3 linked regions of the Homo sapiens genome follow. The protein of the gene in region 1 interacts with the protein of each later gene in a biochemical or structural test. Each region holds a gene or a part of one and is shown on either strand. Other genes may lie near its edges.

Evidence for each region.
Region 2: of the proteins of CLIC5 (region 1) and SRPK1, one has a biochemical effect on the other in vitro, tested with the Homo sapiens proteins (one large-scale study listed by BioGRID and IntAct).
Region 3: the proteins of CLIC5 (region 1) and EZR form a complex in vitro, tested with the Homo sapiens proteins (one study listed by BioGRID).

Annotation. Positions count from the first base shown.
Region 1 is NC_000006.12:45,904,361-45,907,860, forward strand, and holds part of CLIC5 (chloride intracellular channel protein 5), read right to left. Parts: intron 1-3,500. UniProt on the Homo sapiens protein: In the soluble state, catalyzes glutaredoxin-like thiol disulfide exchange reactions with reduced glutathione as electron donor. Can insert into membranes and form non-selective ion channels almost equally permeable to Na(+), K(+) and Cl(-).
Region 2 is NC_000006.12:35,834,099-35,837,598, forward strand, and holds part of SRPK1 (SRSF protein kinase 1), read right to left. Parts: intron 1,391-3,500; coding exon 1,206-1,390; 3' UTR 1-1,205. UniProt on the Homo sapiens protein: Serine/arginine-rich protein-specific kinase which specifically phosphorylates its substrates at serine residues located in regions rich in arginine/serine dipeptides, known as RS domains and is involved in the phosphorylation of SR splicing factors and the regulation of splicing.
Region 3 is NC_000006.12:158,784,869-158,788,368, reverse strand, and holds part of EZR (ezrin), read left to right. Parts: intron 1-1,165; coding exon 1,166-1,261; intron 1,262-2,785; coding exon 2,786-3,060; intron 3,061-3,500. UniProt on the Homo sapiens protein: Probably involved in connections of major cytoskeletal structures to the plasma membrane. In epithelial cells, required for the formation of microvilli and membrane ruffles on the apical pole. Along with PLEKHG6, required for normal macropinocytosis.

The sequences.
Region 1 (3,500 bases):
CAGCAGGATGGTTTCTTTAATGAGGTCTCTCTAGCTGCGGCAGCTTCATGGACCTGTGACCTGTGCAGTCTCACCTTGCACTCAGAAGAGCCCTGCTGTTGATTTAATGCTCTGGGGTCAATGTGTGGAAATTCTTAATAATTTTTAAACAGGGCCCCCCTGTTTTCACTGTGCACTAGGGCCTGCACATTAGCTGGTCCTCCTCTAGCCCTTCCAGGCTAGGCTAGGGTAGGGGTAACAGGAGAGTAGTATCACTTCTGACTCCCCTCCCTCCCTCTTTTCTGTCCCTTTCCTTCCCTCCCTACTCCCTTCCTTCCTTCCTTCCTTCCATCCTTCCTCTCTCTTTCTCTCACTCTCTCTCTCCTTCTCTTCCTTCCTTCCCTCTTTTTTTTGGGGGGATACAAGGGGGTACATGTGCAGGCTTGTTACCTGGGTATAACGCATGATGCTGAGGTTTGGGGTATGATTGGTCCTGTCACCTAAATAATGAGCATAGTTTTTCTACACTTGCCCCCTCCATCCCTCTGCCAAGTAGTCCCCAGTGTCTATTGTTGCCATCTTTATGTCCGTGAGTACCTATTGCTTAGCTCCTACTTATAAGTGAGAACATGTAGTTTCATGTTTTCTGTTCTTGCATTAGTTTGCTTAGGATAATGGCCTCCAGCTGCATCCATGTTGCTAAAAAGGACATGACTTTGTTTCTTTACATGGCTATGTAGTATTCCATGATGTATATGTACCATGTTTTGTTTATTCAGTACACTGTTGATGGGCACCCAGGTTGATTTCATGTCTTTGCTATTGTGAAGAGAGCTGTCATAAATATATGAATGCATATGAAATTTTTTTGGTAAAACAGTTTATTTTCCTTTGGATATATAACCAGTAATGGGATTGCTTGGTCAAATGATAGTTCTGCTTTTAGTTCTTTGAGAAATCTCCAGAGTGACTGAACTAATTTACATTCCCATTAACACTGTATAAGTGTTCCCTTTTCTCCACAGACTAACCAACATCTGTTGCTTTTTGACTTTTTCACAATAGCCATCCTGACTGGTGTGAGGGAGGTGTCTCCTTGTGCTTTTAATTTGCGTTTCTCTGGTGACTGGTGATACTGAGCTTTTTTTTTTTTTTTTTAATGTTTGTTGGCCACTTATTATGTCTTTTTTTGAGAAGTGTCTGTTCATGTCTTTTGCCCACTTTTTAATGGTATTATTTGTTTTTTTCTTATTCAATTGTTTAAGTTCCTTATAGATTCTGGATATTAGACCTTTGTCAGATGCATAGTTTGCAAATACTTCCTCCCATTCTGTGGGCTAACTGTTCACTCTGTTGATAGTTTCTATGTGCAGAAGCTCTTTAGTATAATTAAGTCCCACTTGTCAATTTTTATTTTTGTTGCAATTGCTTTTGTAACTTCATCATAAATTACTTCCCAAAACTGATGTACAGAATGTTTCCTGGTTTTCTTCTAAGATTCTTACAAGTTGAGGTAAATCTTTAATCCATATTGAGTTACTTTTTGTATATGATGAAAGGTAGGGGTCCAATTTCATTCTTCTGCATAGGGATAGTCAGCTATTCCAAAACCATTTATTGAATAGGAAGTCATTTCCCCATTGCTTATTTTTGTCAATTTTGTGGAAGATCAGATGACCGTAGGTGTGTGGCTTTATTTCTGGGTTCTCTTTTCTGTTCCATTCATCTATGTGTCTGTTTTTGTACAAGTACCATGTTGTTTTGGTTACTGTAGCCTTATAGTGCAGTTTGAAGTCAGGTAATGTGACACCTCCAGCTTTGTTCTTTTTGCGTAGGGTGGCTTTGGCTATTCCGGCTCATTTTTGGTTCCACACGAATTTTTAGAATAGTTTTTTCTAGTTATGTGAAAAATGACATTGGTAGATTGATAGGAATGGCATTGAATCTGCATATTGCTTTGGACAGTATGGCCATTTTATCAATATTATTTCTTCCAATTTATGAGCATGGAATGTTTTTCCATTTGTTTGTGTCAGCTGCAATTTCCTTAAGTAGTGTTTTATAGCTCCCCTTGTAGAGATTTTAACTCCCTGGTTAGATGTAGTCCTAGATATTTTATTTTATTTTATTTTTGCAGCTATTATAAATTGGAGTATGTTCTTGATTTGGCTCTCAACTTTAATATTGTTAGCATACAGAAATGCTACTGATTTTTGTACATTGACTTTTTTTTTTTTTTTGAGATGGAGTTTCGCTCTTGTTGCCCAGGCTGGAGTGCAATGGTGCAATCTCTGCTCACTGCAACCTCTGCTTCCTGGATTCAAGCGATTCTCCTGCCTCAACCTCCTGAGTAGCTGGGATTACAGGCATGCGCCACCATGCCCAGCTAATTTTGTGTTTTTAGTAGAGACAGAGTTTCTCCATGTTGGTCAGGCTGGTCTCGAACTCCCGACCTCAGTCGATCCGCCTGCCTCAGCCTCCCAAAGTGCTGGGATTACAGGCATGAGCCACTGTGCCCGGCCACATTGACTTTTTATACTGAGACTTTACTGAAGTTGTTTATCAGTTCCAGAAGCCTTCTGGTGAAGTCTTTAGGGTTTTTGAGGAATAGAATCACATCACCAGTAAAGAGAGAGAATGTGACTTCTTCTTTTCCTATTTGTATGCCTTTTATTTCTTTATCTTGCCTGATTGCTCTGGCAAGGACTTCCACTACTACATTGAATAGGAGTGGTGAGAGTGGGCATCCTTGTCTTGTTGCAGTTTTCAAGGGGAATTATCCCAGTTTTTGCCCATTCAGTAAGATGTTGGCTGCAGATTTGTCATAGATAGATGGCTCTTATTATTTTGAGGGGTGTTCCTTTAATGCCTAATTTATTGAAGGTTTTTGTCATGAAGGGATGTTGAATTTTATCCAAAGGTTTTCTGTGTCTATTGAGATGATCATTTCATTTTTGTTTTTAATTCTGTTTATGTGGCGAATAACATTTATTGATTTGTGTATGTTGAACCAACCATGCATCCTAAGAAGAAGCCTATTTGATCAATGTGAATTAACTATTTGATGTGCTGCTGGATTTGGTTTGCTAGTATTTTGTTGTGAATTTTTTGTGTCTATGTTCATCAGGGATATTGGCTTGAAGTTTTCTTTTTTCATTGTGTCTTTGTCAGGTTTTGGTATCAGGGTGGTGCTAGCTTCATAGAATGAGTTAGGAAGGAGTCCTTCCTTGATATTTTGGAATAGTTTAAGTACGATTGGTACTGGTTCTTCTTTTTATGTCAGGTAAAATTCAGCTGTGAATCCACCTAGTCTGGGGCTTTTACTGGTTGGTAGGTTTTTTTAAATTACTGATTCAATTTCATAACTCAATTAGTATGTTCAGGGTTTCAATTTCTTCCCAATTCAATCTTGGAATATTGACTTTGTATACTGAACCTTTACTGAAGTTGTTGATCAGTTCCAGGAGCCTTTTGGTGAAGTCTGTAGGGTTTTCAAGAAATAGAATCATAATCAGTAAAGA
Region 2 (3,500 bases), about 10 Mb from region 1:
GACATTATGTAGGGAAATAGCAGCAGAGAATGGCTAATCTTAAAAAATAACGAACCAACCAACCAAAAAACAAAACAAAACAAGACCAACAAAAAAAAGTGCCATCCCACCCCTCCCCTTGGTTCTTTCATTTGGGGTTATATTAAAGACTCGAGCCTCTGAGAAAATCAGAAAGGCAAAGCCATAGAGGAAAACTGCTTCAAGGCCAGAATTTTGGGTAAGGTAAAGAAAAAGCTGTACATGAAAGCAGGGGACTGTTTGGAAAAGAATCAGAATCTCAAGATCTATTTTTCTTAAATGGGAAAGCTCTGAAACCCAGATCTCCGTTCTACCATCATCCTGATCCTTTAGTTATGGGGCAATAAACTCAAGTGCAATGAGTAAAGTGCCAGCCATGGATACAAAAACAAAAAATAAAACAAAACAACCAACCAAAATAACTCTGGTCTTAGGGTAATAGAAGACATACAGGAAAGGACTGTTTATAGAACACCTGAGGTTCTCAAGAAATTACTATTCAATGGTTCTGTTTTTGCTTACATTAAAAATCAGACTGAAGATTCAAAGATCTTAACTATTAAAGGATGAAAGGAATTTGACAGTGCTTTGAACAGTGATAAAATGGTACCCAAATTTGGTGTTCATATAGCTATTTAAAAAAGACAGTAGCTTAAAAGTTGCAGGAAAAAATGTGAACACAGAGAACAACAGAAACAGTCCAGGAAGATGATGCAGCCCGGACACAGCAAGTTTAATGTCTCTGCTGTACATAGAATTAAGACCCTTTCCCCCTCCTCATCCTTATGCTGGCAATAGGATATGCACTAGAAAATTTGACTCTTAGAGTCAATGAATAAAAGGATGGGCTCATACACCTTCATAGCTCTTTTCAAAAAGGATGCTTATAATTTAAAGGATGTCCTAATGGGAAGGAAAGGTACAGGGCAAGAGGCTGTTTCACATTTTAGTCCATTAGTCTTTGGCAGAGCCCAACCAAGGCCAAATTCACCTAGGATGCCCAATGGCTGTGGGGATCTCCACAGGGTCAAGTAAGCAAACCCAAATGAACATGTTGGATTAAAAAAAAAACAAGATCTAGAAACTCTTGAAGGAAGAGCTTCACCCTGAAAAGGGAAGAGGAAAATGCTTGAAGGGGAAGGGCGGAGGGTCAGTGTGTGATCTCTGCTGTGGTGCTGGGCAGGGGCTTAGGAGTTAAGCCAAGGGTGCCGGAGACACTCGGCGGCAGTGGCTCTCTTCTCAGGGATCAGCTCCAACATGGGCAGTAAGAAATCTGTGAAGCCAGCTGCCTCTTCCTGCGACCACTCATACTTCTCCACTAGAACCTCAAAAAGGCCCCAAGGTTTCAGCTTCGTGATATGTTTCAGGTCACCTGCAGTGAAGACAGTACAGAAAAAGCCACTGATCAACACAGACAAATGACAAGGTACTCTTGTGGAAACCCACAAACTAACCCATGTAGTCTATGAGGAATCAAATTTTGCAATCAGAATCTAATCCTTCATTCACAAAGCATTTCTTTTCTGACATATGCCTCAGAAAGAAGTGCCTCTATTCTTCATACGGCTCCAAAAATTTAAGGTAATTTGTTTTCTCCCCTATTCTAGGATTTTTTTGGTCCCAGTCAAACTGGGTGTGACAATCAAGAAGTAGGTATTTACTACTAAAATAAACATGAAATGCCTATGTCTTCAACATGGTCTTATATGGTGTGCAGAGACACTCTAGTACCACATACCGAGAATAATTTGCTTATACTCTTTTTTTGTGTATGTGCTCAATAGTTTAGTAAATGTTGCTTTACAGTGAGGCAGTAAAGTTAAAACATCATGTCAAGCATGGATAAAAGCAACAAAAAAAACCCCAAATCCTACACAGTTTTCAGATACAACAGCTTCATATACTCTATACCAGGGGTCCCCAACTCTATACCAATACCCCCTATGGTACCAGTCTGCGGTCTGTCAGGTCTGCACAGCAGCAGGTCAGTGGTGGGCCAGCAAGCATTACTGCCTAAGCTCCACCTCCTGTCAGCTCAGTGGCTGCATTAGATTCTCACAGGAGCGTGAATCCTACTGTGAACTGCAGTAGGGATCTAGGTTGCATGTTCCATAAAAGAACCTAATGCCTGACAATCTGAGGTGACACAGTTTTATCTCCAAACCACCCCCCAACCCCCCCATCCATTGAAAAACTGTCTTCCACAAAACCAGTCCCTGGTGCCAAAAAGATTGGGGACCGCTGCTCTACACTATACTGGAGTATCAACCTAATTGCTTCTTTGAAGTGACAACTTTTTAAAAGATAGTCAATTATTAATAGCTAAGGCAAATGCTGCTTTAAAATTTTAAGTTGGCCAGGCACAGTGGCTCATGCCTGTAATTCCAGCACTTTGGGAGGCTGAGTCGGGTGGATCACTTGAGCTCAGGAGTTCAAGACCAGCCTGGGCAACATAGTGAAACCCTGCCTCTACCAAAAATACAAAAAAATTAGCTGTGTATGGTGGCACATGCCTGTGGTCCTAGCTACTTGGGAGGTTGAGGCAGGAGGATCATTTGAACCTGGGAGGTGGAGGTTGCAGTGAGCCAAGATCGTGCCACTGTACTCCAGCCTGGGTGACAGAGTGATACCCTGTCTCAATAATAATAATAATAATAATAATAATAATAATTTTTTTTAAACATAAAAATTTTAAGTCTCTTTTGTGAGCAGTGAGTGCCTATTTGATTACCTACCTGGTAAACACACATGCCTTAATCTGACTGCACATGAGGAGGAACTCTTATGAAACATTTTACAATTTTCCCACCTAAAAAGAGGTTTAAGAAAGGGTAATGTTTCTGAGGATGGCTCCTGCCAAGGATTGAGAAAAGTCATTTTTCTCAGCACTTCTGTAGAAGTTGTGAGGAAAAAGGGAACCATGGCACAATGGGGGTAGAAAAACCAGACCATTTCCTAGATGCTTCTAGGTCAGGTTTTCACATTTCAGGTTTTTTTTGCAATGCTTAAGAAATATATTATCAAGTCAAAAATTGGAAGTTTTGTTTTTGTGGTTTTTTTTGTAATAACAAATACATAAAACTAAAAAGTGTGAAGTTCGTTTGTATGACTAATGTACTTCGAGTGACTGTGTTAGGTGTCACTGGGATGCAAAGATGAGTGAGATGTAGTCCCTGCCCTTATGTAAGAAGCTTAAATTACCTGCCCTTTGGTAGAGGCAGTTCTTAGACCAAACGCCAGCAAAAAATTTGCCCATTTTTCAGAAGTGCTATAGAAGTAATCAACCAACTGCATGCAGGCACTATACATATTAACTGTTAGTAAGAAGTATACTTTATTATTATCTCCATTAAGAAATCAGCAAACTGAGGCACAGTTAGATCCTGTCAAAGGTCACATGGCTAGTGGAGTAGCCAGGATTTGACAGTCTGGCTCCAGTCTCTGCTCTTTTTTTTCCCCGAGACAGGATCTTGCTCTGTTGC
Region 3 (3,500 bases), about 110 Mb from region 1:
AGCTTGCAGCCTTCCCCCATCCCTTTTGGGTGAGTGGGAAGAGGGGGAAGAACAGGTCAGTCCTGGGCATTTAATAAACAGACTTCTAGAGCTTTAGGGAGCCTCTGGCCTCCCTGCACCCTTCAGATGAAGAAACAGGCCCAGATCAGGAGTTAATTTGGAATTTTAGGATTTACTTTAAGCAAATGCTCTGTATACCTGAGTTGTCATTTCTAATGTATTCAACCCTCTTTGGCATTAAATATGATAGAAGCCATGTATTTGAAGGATGGTAGCATTTTTTAAAGTTTAACATTATATATCATGGGATTTTAAATTAGACATCTATGTATATGTAAATAGTCGAACTTGTCTGGGACTCGGTTTAGATGATGTTCAACAAATGTCCACAGCAAGTTCGACTATCACTGCTTTTCTGTTTACAAGACAGTCGTGAGACTAAGCAGCTCAGGACTCCTGTAATGCACAACAGAGGCTTGAAAATGTGAAATCTTTGCTGTGACCTAGGGTCGGGATTCTACCTTTGCTGTATCAGAATGTCCCATTTCTGGAGGTCTATAAGATGCAGGTTCCTCTGGGCACCCCTGTGCATTGACACCCTTCCGTCCCAGAAGTCTGCCTTGCCTGTTTTCCTGCCTTTCCTAGGATTTCTTTGTCCCTGTTCCTAGTAAGTCAGACCCCTGGGCCAGCTGGCTGAGAGGCAGAGGCAGGCAGCCAGAGGAGGCTCAGGTGTGGCACTGGATGCTTTAGTCTTCTGCATGAGCACACCTGACCGGCAGCGATGCACCCACCGCACTGTTCCCTGGGGGGCTGTGGGCTCCCATGGTTCTGTGTGTGCTGGCCATAACCCGCCCTGCTGAGTTTCATGCAGGAGAGCATCCTGGAGTACAAAGGAGTAGGAGTGAGATTTTCTAAGATTTGAAGGTAGAACCCTGAATCTGCTCAAATTTATATTAAAAATAAGTCGTTCATGGCTTTGAGATAATAGCCTCAGTTAGTAACAAGTTATTTGAGTGCAAAAAAAGATGTTGCCCAGTGGTTGGACTGAGCAGATGTCCTGGTTTCCTGGGGACTCTGCTAGACCATGTGATGAACGACAGCCAAAAGCTGTTGCCCTTTTGAGTGAGTTTCTCATGAGTGTTGAGCCTCTCTCTCTCTCACGCAGGTGGTAAAGACTATCGGCCTCCGGGAAGTGTGGTACTTTGGCCTCCACTATGTGGATAATAAAGGATTTCCTACCTGGCTGAAGCTGGATAAGAAGGCAAGTCAGGATTAACTATTTACAGGCTGTGGATTGGGTGTTGGTCTGCTTCATCGATAAGGAAACTGGAGCAACTCACCCTGTCTTTTGTTTTCTGTTCCTTTTTGTTTGTGTAAAAGTTTTTACAGACAAAAAGGTTGCAGGTTTCCAGTAAATGGAGATATCGATTGGAAATCAGATCTGGCATTTCTCCATAGTGCTCACTCATTGGAGCATATGATGGTTAATTGCATAGCTTTTAGTTGACCTTAGTTTTTTCAATGAGATTGTTAATCTTATAAACTGTGAATCATCCACCATCTTGTAAGAACCTGTTATTGCTTTGTTTGAACCTGTGACAGATTATCTTCCAACTTTAAAGAGTGGATAATTCCATTAACCAACCAAAAAGAAAAGTAGTAAGATAAACATTTTCTTCAAACTCTGAAAATTATCCTTTTTTTTTTTTTTGAAACCCCCACTGTCCTCCCAAGTCACAGCAACAAGTTAAAAAGATGATGGGAGGTGGGGAAGAGTGGAGGAGCAGGAGGAATTCTTAACAGTAAGTTTCGGGGTCCAGGGCCCGATTGGCATGTGGCCCCATTCCAGGTCACTGGGGTCATTTCCAAATTTGAGTTCTCCAGGATTGATAGCATCATCCCATGAGGACTGGGGCTTAGTGAGGCAGTAGCTTTGATTTCCAGCTGAGCACAAGAGTGTGATAGTACTTGTTTGTTTTTTGTTGTTGTTGTTTTGAGATGGAGTCTTGCTCTGTCGCCCAGGCTGGGGTGCAGTGGCACGATCTTGGCTCACTGCAACCTCCACCTCCTGGGTTCAAGTGATTCTCCTGCCTCAGCCTCCCAAGTAGCTGGGACTACAGCTGCATGCCATCATGCCCGGCTAATTTTTTTGTATTTTTAGTAGAGATGGGGTTTCACCATGTTGGTCAGGCTAGTCTCGAACTCCTGACCTCGTGGTCCGCCCACCTCAGCCTCCCAAAGTGCTGGGATTACAGTCGTGAGCCACCATGCCTGGCCTGTTTTTTTGTTTTTGTTTGTTTGTTGTTGTTTTTTAAGAAGAGACAGGGTCTTGCTCTGTCACCCAGGCTGGAGTGCAGTGGCGCCATCATAGCTCACTGCAGTCTCGAACTCCTGAGCTCCAGGGTTCCTCCTGCTCAGCTTCTTGAGTAACTGGGACTATAAGCATGCATCACCATCCCCAGCTAACTTTTTTTTAAAAAATGTTGTAGAGATGGGATCTCTTCTACGTTGCCCAGGCTGGTCTTAAACTCCTGGGCTCAAGTGATCCTCCTGCCTTGGCCTCCCAAAGCACTGGGATTATAGGCATGAGCCACCATGTCTGGCCTGTGGTAGCACTTTTGACTAACCTTTTTTTGTCTGGAGTGCTAAAAAGATGACTTTAAGAATAAATATCTCCTGAAAACTGGCTTGAGGGCCCCATTGAGTCTTGGTTAGAAGCCTGTGTTGGGGACAGTGGGCCTTCGTCTTCCGGATTTGTGTGGAGAGTGTGGCTTGTTTCGTGCAGGTGTCTGCCCAGGAGGTCAGGAAGGAGAATCCCCTCCAGTTCAAGTTCCGGGCCAAGTTCTACCCTGAAGATGTGGCTGAGGAGCTCATCCAGGACATCACCCAGAAACTTTTCTTCCTCCAAGTGAAGGAAGGAATCCTTAGCGATGAGATCTACTGCCCCCCTGAGACTGCCGTGCTCTTGGGGTCCTACGCTGTGCAGGCCAAGTTTGGGGACTACAACAAAGAAGTGCACAAGTCTGGGTACCTCAGCTCTGAGCGGCTGATCCCTCAAAGGTGAGCACAGGATGACCCGGCCTGGGCAGGAGCAGTCATGCCGTCCTCGGCAGGGAGAAGTGATTGCCTTAGAAGCACAGTTTAAAAACACAAGGACTTCGCCAGTGTCAAGTGCTCCTTCATGCTAGTCATTAAGTCACTGACCAGCGACCTGAAACATAGCCAGGGAAGGCGAGCTGCCATTCCTCATGGAAACTAAAGCGTGGCCGTGTCCTGTGGGACATGGCATAGCAAACTTCTCGACCTGACTGCTCAGCTCCTCCTGGGGTATGATAGGTTGCCCCTGTGAAATCTGTTTTTATTTAGTAATGGTCACAAAAATTACCCCATTTGGAAGAAGAGGCCACTTAAAATACCTCTTAGTTTTTCCAGCAGAACTGAGTTCTTGTTCAAAATGCTAAGTCTTCCAGATTAACTGTCATAAATAGAAATGCTGCACA